Linked DNA regions of Homo sapiens: all the other regions are linked to region 3. The links come from fine-mapping of genetic effects on gene expression. A gene starts in region 3. Each other region holds a variant in brackets. All regions are shown on one strand. Distances are between the middles of the regions.

Region 1 (4,244 bases), 39 kb before region 3:
TGGCTCATGCCTATAATCCCAGCACTTTGTGAGGCCGAGACGGGAGGATCACCAAAGGTCAGGAGTTTGAGATGAGCCTGACCAACATGGAGAAACCCTGTCTCTACTAAAAATACAAAAATTAGCTGGGCATGGAAGGGAGCAGTGTGGGGGGCGGGGGCGCCTATAATCCAGATACTCGGGAGGCTGAAGCAGGAAAATTGCTTGAACCCGGGAGGCGGAGGTTGCCTCGAGCCGAGATTGCGCCATTGCACTCCAGCTTGGTGATAGAGTGAGACTCCGTCTCAAAAAAAAGAAAGAAAGAAAGAAAGAAATAGAAATAGAAACAGTGCAGTTCTTGCAGTAGAGTATCATCAGCAGGACATGGAACTGGGAGGCACCAGCAGCCTCTACTACAACTCCTAGGCTGGTTCTCTGGATCCTTAACCCTACTGCTACAGCCAGCCAAGGTCCCCAAATGCAGCCCTTCTGCTCACACAAAGTAGAAACTGGGAGAATTGTCTCCAAGGAAATGACTTTGAGTGTAGACAAAAGCCCTAATTGATACCTCCAGACTCCTCCAACCAAACTTGCATAGATGGAGCAGATTGCCTTTTGCAAGGAAAACATGACATCGCACTGTCCAGAATAGGGCAAGACCCACAGTATTCTGGATTTTGCTAGCACAGCAGTGATCACCCCACCCCAGGCAGCAGGTCCCCAGAGGAACTCAGAAGCAAGTCCTGCCCAGCTTACGCAGAGAGAACCAGAAACAAGGGAAAAGGAGGGAAGAGCAAGGACTGAGTGGAGTGGGCACTGCCTCTTGCACTTCACCTGGTGAACTCTGAAAAGCCATGTGCACAGCATGTAAAAGTGTGTCCATATACTTGTGTCTGATAAAAGATTGATTGGCAGTCGGCCTCTGCATTGCTACTCAAAATATACGCCCATATTTTAATATTTAGTGGCTACAACACAATGTCAATTCTTTTGTTGACATTAATCTGGTTTTAGGAGAAACAATCCATTTTTCCTCTGGTCTCATAGCACAACAACTAACACAAAAGACTGGTTACTCCCAAGTAGGTGGAGATTTCTCCCCACTAGAAAGCAAGCAATTGACTCTGCATCAGACATCAGCTGGCTATCTTCCAGTTCAATCCAAATACTATTTATCCAAAGATAGCATCAGATCCCACATGTTAAGGGCTCAGTCCCACAAAACCGCCCCCTCCTTCCCACCAGTAACAAGTCTGGGCTTCCAGATCTTCCGACCAAATGGCTCTGGGTTGGGGTTTCCATGACCCCTTTTTTTTTTAGTTCAATTAGTTTGCTAGAGTGGCTCACAGAACTCAGGGAAACACTTACCTTTAGTGGCTTATTGTAAAGGATATTACAAAGGATACAAATGAAGAGGTGCATAGAGCAAGGTATGGGGGAAGGACTGGAGAGCCTTCCACGCACCCCTAGGTGTGCCACCCTCCAGGAACCCTCCACGTGTTCAGCTGTAAGGAAACTCTCCGAACCCTGTCCTTTTGGGTTTTTATGGAAGCTTCATTACATAGTCACGATTGACAACCATGTAGAAATGCGATTGGACAAAAAGGTTATGATCCCATACTAACAGTTTGAGTGGGGAAACCCAGTAAAGCTTGTCTGTTCAGGTTTGTCTTGACATCTCTTTATAGCATTTCTTCCTCTAGGGTATGGGGTGGGACCCTCTCTGAAATGAGGGTCTTTTGAGCCACAATCAGATTATAGTCCTGCCTTAGGTAGGTAAAGGGAGGACAGGGTAAGGTCAGAGAGGGAGATTCTGTTTCATGAGGCCTGCTCCTGAGGCCTAAAACCCCCTAATGTTAAAACAAACAAACAAACAAAAAAAAAACCCTAACAAAGGATATGGGAGTTATAAGCCAGGAACTGTAATATCACAAGTTGCTAATGTTACAATAATACATATCTCTGCATAGGACTTAATAAAACTATTTTTGCATTGTTAATGTAGCCTGTA[A/G]ACATGATGATGTGGCTTGAACTTGCTCTCATGAAAGAAAAAATTTTTTTGTTTACCAGTGAGTTATACTCTGCTGTATCAGAAATATTAATTAAAGCCATAAGAGTGGCTTCACTATCCATAGAAAGATTTTAGATAAGGAAGATACAGCTGTGAGAGCTGAGTCTAGCAGAGTGCATCATTTATATCAATGACAAACAAAATAAATGTGGTTGGAGGAGGGAGAAGAGACAAAAAGGTCAACGAAAATAAAAAGCGAAAGGCATTAAAGTGTGGGGGGTAAAATTACTCCAAGAAGTACAGGCTTAGTAAGAGCTGAGAACTGACCATGAGATTTGACTTTTTTTTTTTTAGACAAGGTCTCACTCTATTGCCCAGGCTGGAGGGCAGTGGTACAATCTTGGCTCACTGCAGCCTCTATCTCCTGGGCTCAAGTAATCCTCCAACTCCTGAGCTCAAGTGATCCTCCCACCCCAGCCTCTCCAGTAGCTGGGATCACACTAGCATACTCGGCTAATTTGCTGTTGTTGTTATTGTTTGTAGAGACAGGGTTTTGCCATATTGTCCAGGCTGGTCTCAAACTCCTTGGCTCAAGCCATCTGCCTGCTTTGTCCTTCCAAAGTGCTGAGATTACAGGTGTGAGTTATGGTAGCCTGCCCCGAGATTTGATTTTAAAGTTCCTTTTAATAAAGAGGGGGGCAGGAGTCAGCTTACATAAAAATGCCATGAGGTGAGAGGTGCCAAGGAAGCTGGGGCAACCAGAGTACATAATGCAGCCTACAGACAACTGGCTTAGGAAAGAGAAGAAAGAATTCTAGAAGGAACAAATGTAAGGCGATAAAGAGGGAAGATGCCCACCTACTGCACACAGAGGAATCGGGGGCACAAACCTAAGATCCGAGAGTGATAGTCCCTGAAGAGAGAATCCAGGAAAAATGGGAGGGGGAAACCGAGTGCATTTTCTGCCACCCAGAATATCTCTGACTTACTGGTACTGGACTGAATTATAGCAGGTGGAAATAAACACCTAGGAAAAGTTCAGAAATGCGTTTGTCAAACATTCTGTGGACAAAGAGGTGTCTCCTACATAACCCAGAGAACCCAGCTGCTCTTCAGCATATCTCTTTCCAGAGTTAATCAGTGACCAACCAGAAAAATGACTAAGAGAGCCAAGACAGTGGGCCAGAGGTATCTGGGGAAAAGGTGACATGGTGGTCCTGTCTAGGAAGCTCCCAGCCTGGCACAGCCTGCAATAAACCCCTGACCACTGAGAAGGGCTCAACCAAGATTGGGTAGATTTCAGAACAGAATAATTTCAGAAGGAAATGAGATGTGATCTGAACGACATAATTTATTTTATTTATTTATTTATTTATTTATTTATTTATTTATTTTTTGAGACGGAGTTTTGCTTTTCTTGCCCCAGGCTGGAGTGCAATGATGCGGTCTCAGCTCACTGCAACCTCCGCCTCCTGGATTCAAGTGATTCTCCTGTCTCAGCCTCCCGAGTAGCTGGGATTACAGGCACGCACCACCACCCCCAACTAATTTTTGTATTTTTAGTAGAGATGGGGTTTCACAGTGTTGGCCAGGCTGGTCTCAAACTCCTGACCTCAGGTGATCTGTCCACCTCAGCTTCCCAAAGTGCTGGAATTACAGGTGTGAGCCACCGCACCCAGCTGACCTAATTTATTTTTCAAAAAATTTCTGTTTTGGCTGGCCCTGTGGCTCACACCTGTAATCTCAGCACTTTGGGAGGCCAAGGATAGCAAATCACTTGAGGTCAGGAGTTCAAGACCAGCCTGGCCTGGCCAACATGATGAAACCCCATCTCTACCAAAAATATAAAAAATTAGCCAGATGTGGTGGCGTGTGCCTGAAGTCCCAGCTACTTGGGAGGATGAGGCAGGAGAATCACTTGAACCAGGGATGAAGGGGACCAGCCCCTCCATGCCTATGGGTATTTCTCGTCAGATGGGATAAGAGACTGAGAAAAGAAATAAGACACAGAGACAAAGTATAGAGAAAGAATAGTGGGCCCAGGGGACCGGCGCTCAGCATACAGAGGACCCGCATGGGTACCGGTCTCTGAGTTCCCTCAGTATTTATTGATTACTATTTTCATTATCTCAGCAAGGGGAATGCGGCAGGAGAACAGGGTGATAGTGGGGAGAAGGTCAGCAAGAAAACATGTGAGCAAAGGAATCCGTGTCACAAATAAGTTCAAGGGAAGGTACTATGCCTGGATGTGCAT
Region 2 (4,244 bases), 48 kb after region 3:
ATGCTAATTGTCTAATGTTAACTTTGGATTCTTGAGATAAATCTTGCTTGGTCAAGATGTATTCTCTTTTCTTATATATTGCTGGATCAATTTGCTAATATTTTGTTAGAGGTTTTTTTTGTCTATGTTTATGAGTAATGTTGATCTGTAATTTCTTTTTATTTTCTTTTGTCAGGCTTTGGTAGTAAGTAATTCTGCACTCATAAAACAAGTCGAAAACTTCCCCTCCTCTGGTATTAACATGTATTAATTTGAGAAGATACTCTACTTACATATAAGGTAAGTATTGATGGGGTTGGGTTTACGTCTACCATTTTACTATTTGTTTTATATCTTCCCATCTGTTTTTTACTCATTTGTTTCTTCTTCTTCTTCTTTTTTTTTTTTTTTTACCTTATTTTGGCTTAATTAGAAAAAAAGAGATTTTGGAATTCCATTGTAATTTGTATGTTATCATTTTACCTATATTTCTTTCAACTATTTTTAGTCATTGCTTAGGAATTACAATACACACATTCTTAATTTTTTTTGTCCACTTAGCATTAATATTGTAGCACTTCATGGAAAATGTAAGAACCTTGCAGACTGTTAGACTCATACAGGTGGCCTTACCCAGCAGCCACCTCTTCTCTCTTCATCCTTCATTCTTTAGTTGTCATACGCATTATATCTATGAAGACACAAAGTTCATCATGCAATATTATAATTTTTACTTTAGATAGCTATATGTACTATTTAATCAAAAAGAAAAATAGTCTGAAATTTACCCACATATTTACCATTTTCAGTGTTCTTCATTCCTTCTAGAACATCTAAATTTTCCATCTGATATCATTTTTCTTCGACATGAGTAACTTTCTGTAACATTTCTTCAAGTATGAGTCTTCTGGTGATGAGTTCTGTTAGTTTTTGTTTAGCTCTGAATGTCATCATTTTGTCTTCATTCTGGAAGAGCCTTTCATTGAATATAGAAATATGGGTAGCAAGTTGTCTTTCAGCCCTTTCAAGATGTGGTTCTGTTTTCATTTGGCTCCTATTTTTTGAGAGAAATTAGTGGAATTTTGTATTATTGGTCTCCTGTATGTAATGTGTCTTTTTCCCCATAAATGCCACTGTAATTTTAACTTTGAGTTTTAATATCTCACTTATGATATGCCTAGGGTTGTATACGTGTGTGTATTTATTCTTCTCAGGGTTCACTGAGCTTCTTGAATCTGAATTTATGTGTTTCACCAAATGTGGGAAGCTTTTGAACATTATTTTCTTTCTTTCTCTCTCTCTCTCCTTTCTCTCTCTCTGTCTCTGTCTTTTTCTTTTTCTTTTCTTCTAGATGGAATTTCACTCTTGTTGCCCAGGCTGGAGTGCAATGGCATGATCTTGGCTCACTGCAACCTCTGCCTTCCAGGTTTTAAGCGAGTCTCCTGCCTCAGCCTCCTGAGTAGCTGAGATTACAAGAATGCTCCACCATGCCCAGCTAATATTGTATTTTTAGTAGAGATGGAGTTTAACCAAGTTAGTCAGGCTGGTCTCAAACTCCTGACTTCAGGTGATCCGCCCACCTCGGCCTCCCAAAGTGTTGGGATTACAGGTGTGAGCCATTGTGCCCAGTCTTATTTCTTTAAATATTGTTTCCTCCCTCATTTTGTTGCCTTCTGGCACCCCAACTGCCTATATGTTAGTCTTGTGTATTCTAA[T/C]TGAGTATATGTTAGACCTTTAAATTTTGCCCAACAGATCATTGCAGCTCTATACATTTTTTTTTCAATTGGCTTTTTCCCTCTCTATTGGATAATTTCGGATTTATTTAAAGTTTACTGACTCTTTCATCATCTCCAATCTATTGCTGAACCCTTCCAGTAAATTTTTTATTTCTCATATTTTACTTTTTAGTTTTCGAATATCTATTTGATACTCTTTTATGGTTTATACTTTTCCTATTTATTCATTCATTATGAACATTTTTTACATTCTTAATCATATTTTTAATGGCTGCTTTAAAATTCTTGTCTGCTACTTCTAACATATGATCATCTTGGGATCCTTTTCTCTTGAGTATGAGTCATGTTTTCTAGTTTTTTGGTATACAGCATAATTTTGGATCATATCGAAGACATTGTTAATGATACATTGCAGAGATTCTGGATTCTGTTACATTCTTCCAAAGAATATTAATTTTAAAAAAGAATTTAGCAGAGAGTTTACCTGCCTTGACTCAAACTTCATGTTTCTCCAGTGATGGGAAAAGCAGCAGCTGTAATCTCTGTGCATTTTGTTTAGCCTTACCTGTGTTGCTTGGAGGTTTTTTTTTCTTTTTCTTTTTTCTAACATGGAGTCTCGCTCTGTCACCCAGGCTGGAGCGCAATGGCACAATCTCAGCTCACTGCAACGTCCACCTCCTGGGTTCAAGTAATTCTCCTGCCTCAGCATCCTGAGTAGCTAGGATTACAGGGATGCGCCACCATGCCTGGCTATTTTTTTTATTTTTAGTAGAGACGGCGTTTCACCATGTTGGTCAGGCTGGTCTTGAACTCCTGACATTGTGATCCACCCACCTCAGCCTCCCAAAGTGCTGGGATTACAGGCATAAGCCACTGTGCTACCCCATGTGTGTGTAGTTCAGAGCTCAGCCAGAGATTGAGGCAGAGTATACACGGAAAATTCTGGTTTTCCCCTCTCTGGCTCTCTCCTTTCTGGGATTTCCCTCCTTTCTTCAATTTCCAGTGCCATGGTTATTCTGAACTCTTGTGATGGTTAATACTGAGTGTCAACTTGACTGGATTGAAGGATACAAAGTATTGATCCTGGGTGTGTCTGTGAGGGTGTTGTCAAAGGAGATTAACATTTGAGTCAGTGGGCCGGAAAAGGAAGACCCACCCTTAATCTGGGTGGGCACAATCTAATCAGCTGCCAGTGTGGCTAGAATATAAGCAGGTAGAAAATGTGAAAAGAGAAACTGGCTTAGCCTCTCAGCCTATATCTTTCTCCCATGCTGGATGCTTCTTGCCCTTGAACATCGGACTCCAAGTTCTTCAGTTTTGGATCTCAGACTGGTTCTCCTTGCTCCTCAACCTGCAGATGGCCTATTGTGGGACATTGTGATTGTGTGAGTTAATACTTAATAAACTCACCTTATATATGGGTCGGGTGCAGTGGCTCATGCCTGTAATCCCAGCACTTTGGGAGGCTGACGTGTGTGGACCACCTGAAGTTACAAGTTTGAGACCAGACTGGCCAACATGGTGAAACCCCGTCTCTACTAAAAATATAAAAATTAGCCAGGCGTGGTGGCGCATGCCTGTAATCCCAGCTACTCAGGAGGCTGAGGCAGGAGAATTGCTTGAACCCAAGAGGCGGAGGTTGCAGTGAGCCAAGATCATGCCATTGCACTCCAGCCTGGGCAACACAGCAAAACTCTGTCTCAAAAAATATACATATACATATATATATATAGAGAATATATATTATATTTTATATATATGGAATATATATAAAATATAATATATATTCCATTAGTTCTGTCCTTCTAGAGAACACTGACTAATAGAACTCTGTTCTCTGGTTTTTTTAAGGCATTACAACTGAGGAACTCTATTAGTTGTTCCGTGTAGCACTGACTAAGGGTCTCCTCGTGCTAACACTCATAAAAATGGAAAATCATCCAGTGTCATTCCTTCTTCTTAGTGTTGGTCCTCACACCTATCCCCTAGTTCCGTCTGCTTTTGGTCACTCTCCAGTGTCTTCAGGTAGTTATTTTTTGTTTTGTTTTGTAACATTTTCAGAGTTACATTAGTTATCTGCAAGAAGGTTAGTCTTGCAGAACCTCCTAGTAATTAATATTTGTTGTATTTTATTAAACTAATAATCTTTGATGGATTGGGTGAAAAATCCTCTGATAGTCATTTTATAAAGCACTGCCTTAAGAGGCTTTTGATCAGGTCCTATAACCAAGACCCCTGGAACTATTCCATTCCTACCATTCCCTAGACCTGACTTCTCAAACAAACCGTTCTATTCTTACCATTCCCTAGACCTGACTGCTCAAACAAACTGTTCTATTCTTACTATTCCCTAGACCTGACTGCTCAAACAAACTGTTCTGTTCTCTGAGCCATCCAGTACATTTCTAATAAATTCATTTTTTAAATGTTGGCCACAGCTCATTCCATTGCATGCAAAGAATTATCACTGATACAGTATTATTCAAATCTTCTACAATGAACATGCTTACTTGTTCTAATATTTAAAAA
Region 3 (4,244 bases):
CACAATGTTGGCCAGACTGGTCTCAAATTCCTGGCCTCAAGTGATCCACCTGCCTCAGCCTCCCAAAGTGCTGGGCTTACAGGCATAAGCCTCCACGCCCAGCCAAAAGTGTCATTTTCTTTATTGCCCACTTTCAAAAAACAAAAAACAAAACAAAACAAAAAAACCCTCTAGTAATATTGTATCATATAGGGAATGAAATTCAAACTCCTAAACCCAGCATTGACCACTCACAACACGCTCCATTTTACACGTCCGTCACTCTCTCTTACCTTATGGTAACGTGCCACGAGTTTTCCTTCTGTATTATACACCACATTGGTATTGTATTGAAAGTAGCCATTAGGAGGACATGTGGAGTCACGGGAATTACATGGCTTTTTGTCCCCCAAATTTGCCAAGACATAGATAGAGTTGTCCTTGGCCAGGCAGCTGAGTCTTGCTTGTACTGGTGTGTGACCAAATCTAAACCAAATTATAATTAAGAAATTTCAATTTTAAAAAAATATTTTAGTCACTTTATATGGAAACGATAGCAACTGTAACCACTTAAGTGGAACTTAAGTTAATACAAAAACTATGCCTAAAAATATCATACTTTAAAAGCCACAGATGATTATACACTTGATGAATGCTTCCCACACGGTATCTATTGCTCCAGAAATTCATTATTCGGTCTCCTGCCTCATCAAGGGTCTCCTCTCTACTGAAACATCCCATCAGCAATGAAATATCCTCTAGTACCTCCCATCTTTAAAAAATAAAATTAAAACCTCTTTTGACCTTTCCAAACATGCCCTTCCAAATATTGCTTTAATCCTCATCTCTCTCTTAAAGCAAAACTCCTCAAAAGATCAGTCCCTCTTGCTGTTGCCAGTTCCTCCTCTCCCATTCCCTTTCAGAGCACTCCAACTTGTATCTCTATCACCCAAACTCTTACTAATGCCAGCAGTGACCCCCACATTTTACCTGATCTCATCTTAACTTTTCAACAGCAGTTGGCACAGTTAATTACACCTCCTTCTGGAAACACCTCACTTCTCTATTGGACCCACCCTCTCATTTTCCTATTTATTGGTTGCTCTTCTTCGACTCTTCTGCTGATTCCTCGTTTTCTTCCGAGTCTAAACACTAGAATTTCCTAGTGCTCAAGCCTTATACCTAAACTCTTCTCTAACTCACTCCACAGGTGAACTCATCATGGTGTTTAACACCATCTATATGCTGACATTTGATTTTCTATCTCCAGATATAATTTTGTCTTTTCATGCCAGACTTGTCCATGCAACTGCCACGTTGACACCTCCAGGATGACAGTAGGACCCAGATTTTTAATATATATTAGAAGGTTTCTAGATAACCTTTTCCCAGGAAAATTAGATTTGTGAGCCTAGGAAAATGCAGTTTCAAAGCATAAGGTCTTATGATTCACTTGAAAATACATGGTGAAGTCTTTCTGCCTAAGAAGCAACTCTGGAATGGAGAGACTCTATAACATTGAAAGGGTGTCCCTTCAGCAGAGGCTTTGGAATGTATTCCTAACACAATCCACTGTCTACTTCAGAAATTAAGTTACTACTTGTATCTATGAGATCTCTTCCCTTAGTTTTTCTTGCAGGAATACCCTATTTACACATTTTCTCAAAATTTAATAAAGATTTTCAATCACAAAAGATTGTTAAATAGTATCTAAGTACAATTTTTTAAAATCTGACAAATGTTGAGATAAATATAACCATAACATATACCACATATATGGTAATTCAAGAGCAATCATTTTGCTTTGGTGAACGTGCGCATTTTAGAGAGTTACTTTTGCACAAAAGACTAAGATAGTTAAAATACCTGTGGGGGTCTTGACACGGAATCCAGTTCACCTGAGGGTCTGGGATATCCTCCAGATAAGGGAAAACAGTTTCCCTGGTAAATTTCCATCCATAAAGTGCATCTTCTGGAGTCACAATGATTCGAGCACCCTGTTCAAAACAAGCAAAATAAAAATGATTTTTCCATGTACAACACAGACAATTCAGCTCTCTCGTCTTCCACCAGCTCCCATGCCCCTCGTGTACATTATGATTAACAGAAATAAGAGAATACCTGCTCAGCTGCCTGCTTGATCGCTGTCTCCAGAATGTCTATATTCTCGTTCATGAGATTCAAGGCATCCTCCTGAGAAACTGGTGTTTCTGTTTTATTTGGCAAAATGACAGCATGTTCATACACTGCAGCTATAAAACTGTCCTGAGTACCAACCTGCAGGGTTATTAGGGCAAAAACTGCCACAGAGATTGGAAAAGAGGAAGTGACCATGGCCAAGGTTTAGTGATTTCTGAAAGCAAAAATAACATTCATGTAGTATTTACAGAGGGGAGAATGTTTGCATAACATGTGGCTGCCAGTTACTGGCCTTTTACTTTATCATCATTTTTCTTCTTCTTCTTCTTCTTCTTCTTCTTCTTCTTCTTCTTTTTTTTTTTTTTTTTTTTTTTTGAGGCGGAGTTTGCTCTGTCACCCAGGCTGGAATGCAGTGGCGCAAGCTCAGCTCACTACAACTTCCACCTCCCAGGTTCAAGCGATTGTCCTTCTTCAGTCTCTGAAACAGCTAGGACTACAGGTGCGCGCCACCACGTCCAGCTAATTTTTGTATTTTTAGTAGAGATGGGGTTTCACAATATTGGCCAGGCTGGTCTCAAACTCCTGATCTTGTGATCCATCCACCTCAGCCTCTCAAAGTGCTGGGATTACAGGCGTGAGCCACTGCACTTGGCCTACTTTATAATCTTAAGAACGCAATATATCTGACCACTTTTAAAGAAAGAAAAGTTGCAGTCCATTTAAGACAATCAGAAAGTATTACAGGGATTGAACAGCATGTACTATTAGTACTAAGATTTAATATTGAATTTCCAAAAGACACCCGAATTCAAATATAGAACAATTCCAGCTTTTGTTAATAGAAACTCATAACTAACTCTCGTGTAAAAAAATCACATCCCAACAAATATCTCATTTATTAAATTTAAAAATTGACAACAATTTTTTTGGTTCTGTTGAGTCACTTACATTGTGTTTATTTTTAGACGGGGGGGAAAATATTAAATACTTACTACTAAGAAAATGTAACACAGGACAATATTGATAACAAAATTTACCCAAATCTACACTCTGACTTACTTATTGCTATTAAGGACTGAAAACATGTGCTCCAGAAAAGCAGGATTTTGTGTCTGGTTTGTTCACTGCTGTATAGTTAGTGCCTACAGCAACAATACCCCGAGGCACCTAGGCCAGAGGAGGAATCTCAGCTCAGGGGCCCCAGGCCTCAGGATACTCCGCTTCTTTCCTTCTTTCTCTCTTTCACCCTTCCCTCCCCATCCTCCCCCTACTTCTCCTTCTCCTCCTACTCCTTCTCCTCCTTCTTTTTCCTCCCTCCCCACCCCCTGCTTTGGAGGAAGATGCCAGGGAAGGGGAAGAGTCCAGGATTGGTGATAAAGATCATCTGTGTTGTAATAAGGAGAAGATGTAACTTACATTTTTGTTAGCAGCAAATAACAACAATGAGTTTAAAAACAATGCTAACAGGCCAGGTGCAGTGGCTCATGCCTGTAATCCTAGCACTTTGGGAGGCCGAGGCAGGCAGATCACCTGAGGTCAGGAGTTCAAGACCAGCCTGGCCAACATAGTGGAACCCCCCATCTCTACCAAAAACACAAAAAGTAGCTGGTCGTGGTGGTGGGCGCCTGTAATCCCAGCTACTCGGGAGGCTGAGGCAGGAGAATCGCTGGAACCCAGGAGGCAGAGGCTGCAGTGAGCTGAGATCACACCATTGCGCTCCAGGCTGGGCGACAGAGCGAAACTCCGTCTCAAAAAAAAAAAAAAAAAAAAAAACAATAATAACAACAAATACAGGATGTGATCTCAGATGCCTTCTTAGGACATTCATATTCTCCCTTCCCCAGGCCCAATCCTGCCAAATAAAGGATTTGTTTTATTTTTATCCAGCCCTTTGGTAAAAGTCACGGAAATGCTTTTAGACAGCATAGAAGAGTAGGTACGATTAAACAAAGTTTATTCTGTGCTTTCCTTCTTACTGAGATAAATGTTTTGTTAAGAATGGGGCCTAGGGGCTATAAATAAGATCTGCTCATATTTTCTGCTTTGAATAGAAGTTTCTATTAAAGGAATAACTTTTCTTATCTCTATAGAGCAGAAAACTAAAAATAATTCAGGAAAAATGGTCA

Evidence for each region. PIP is the estimated chance that this variant, and not a neighbour inherited with it, causes the effect.
Region 1: its variant is the best candidate, but not a certain one, in a credible set for the expression of VNN2 in monocytes after Pam3CSK4 (Quach 2016, PIP 0.88).
Region 2: its variant is the best candidate, but not a certain one, in a credible set for the expression of VNN2 in whole blood (INTERVAL, PIP 0.71).

Annotation. Positions count from the first base shown.
Region 1 is chr6:132,716,886-132,721,129 of GRCh38, forward strand. No RefSeq gene overlaps it. Among named protein-coding and RNA genes, the nearest start is that of VNN1, 5.0 kb to the left of the region's middle. The variant A/G (reference allele first, on the strand shown) is at 1,991.
Region 2 is chr6:132,803,919-132,808,162 of GRCh38, forward strand. LOC107986644 (a long non-coding RNA gene) reads right to left here. Exons shown (of 3, transcript XR_001744345.3): 2 at 780-1,033; 3 at 440-670. Among named protein-coding and RNA genes, the nearest start is that of SLC18B1, 7.4 kb to the left of the region's middle. The variant T/C (reference allele first, on the strand shown) is at 1,695.
Region 3 is chr6:132,755,571-132,759,814 of GRCh38, forward strand. It overlaps VNN2 (vanin 2), which reads right to left and starts at 2,334. Exons shown (of 7, transcript NM_004665.6): 1 at 2,101-2,334; 2 at 1,846-1,976; 3 at 273-465. The coding sequence starts at 2,313.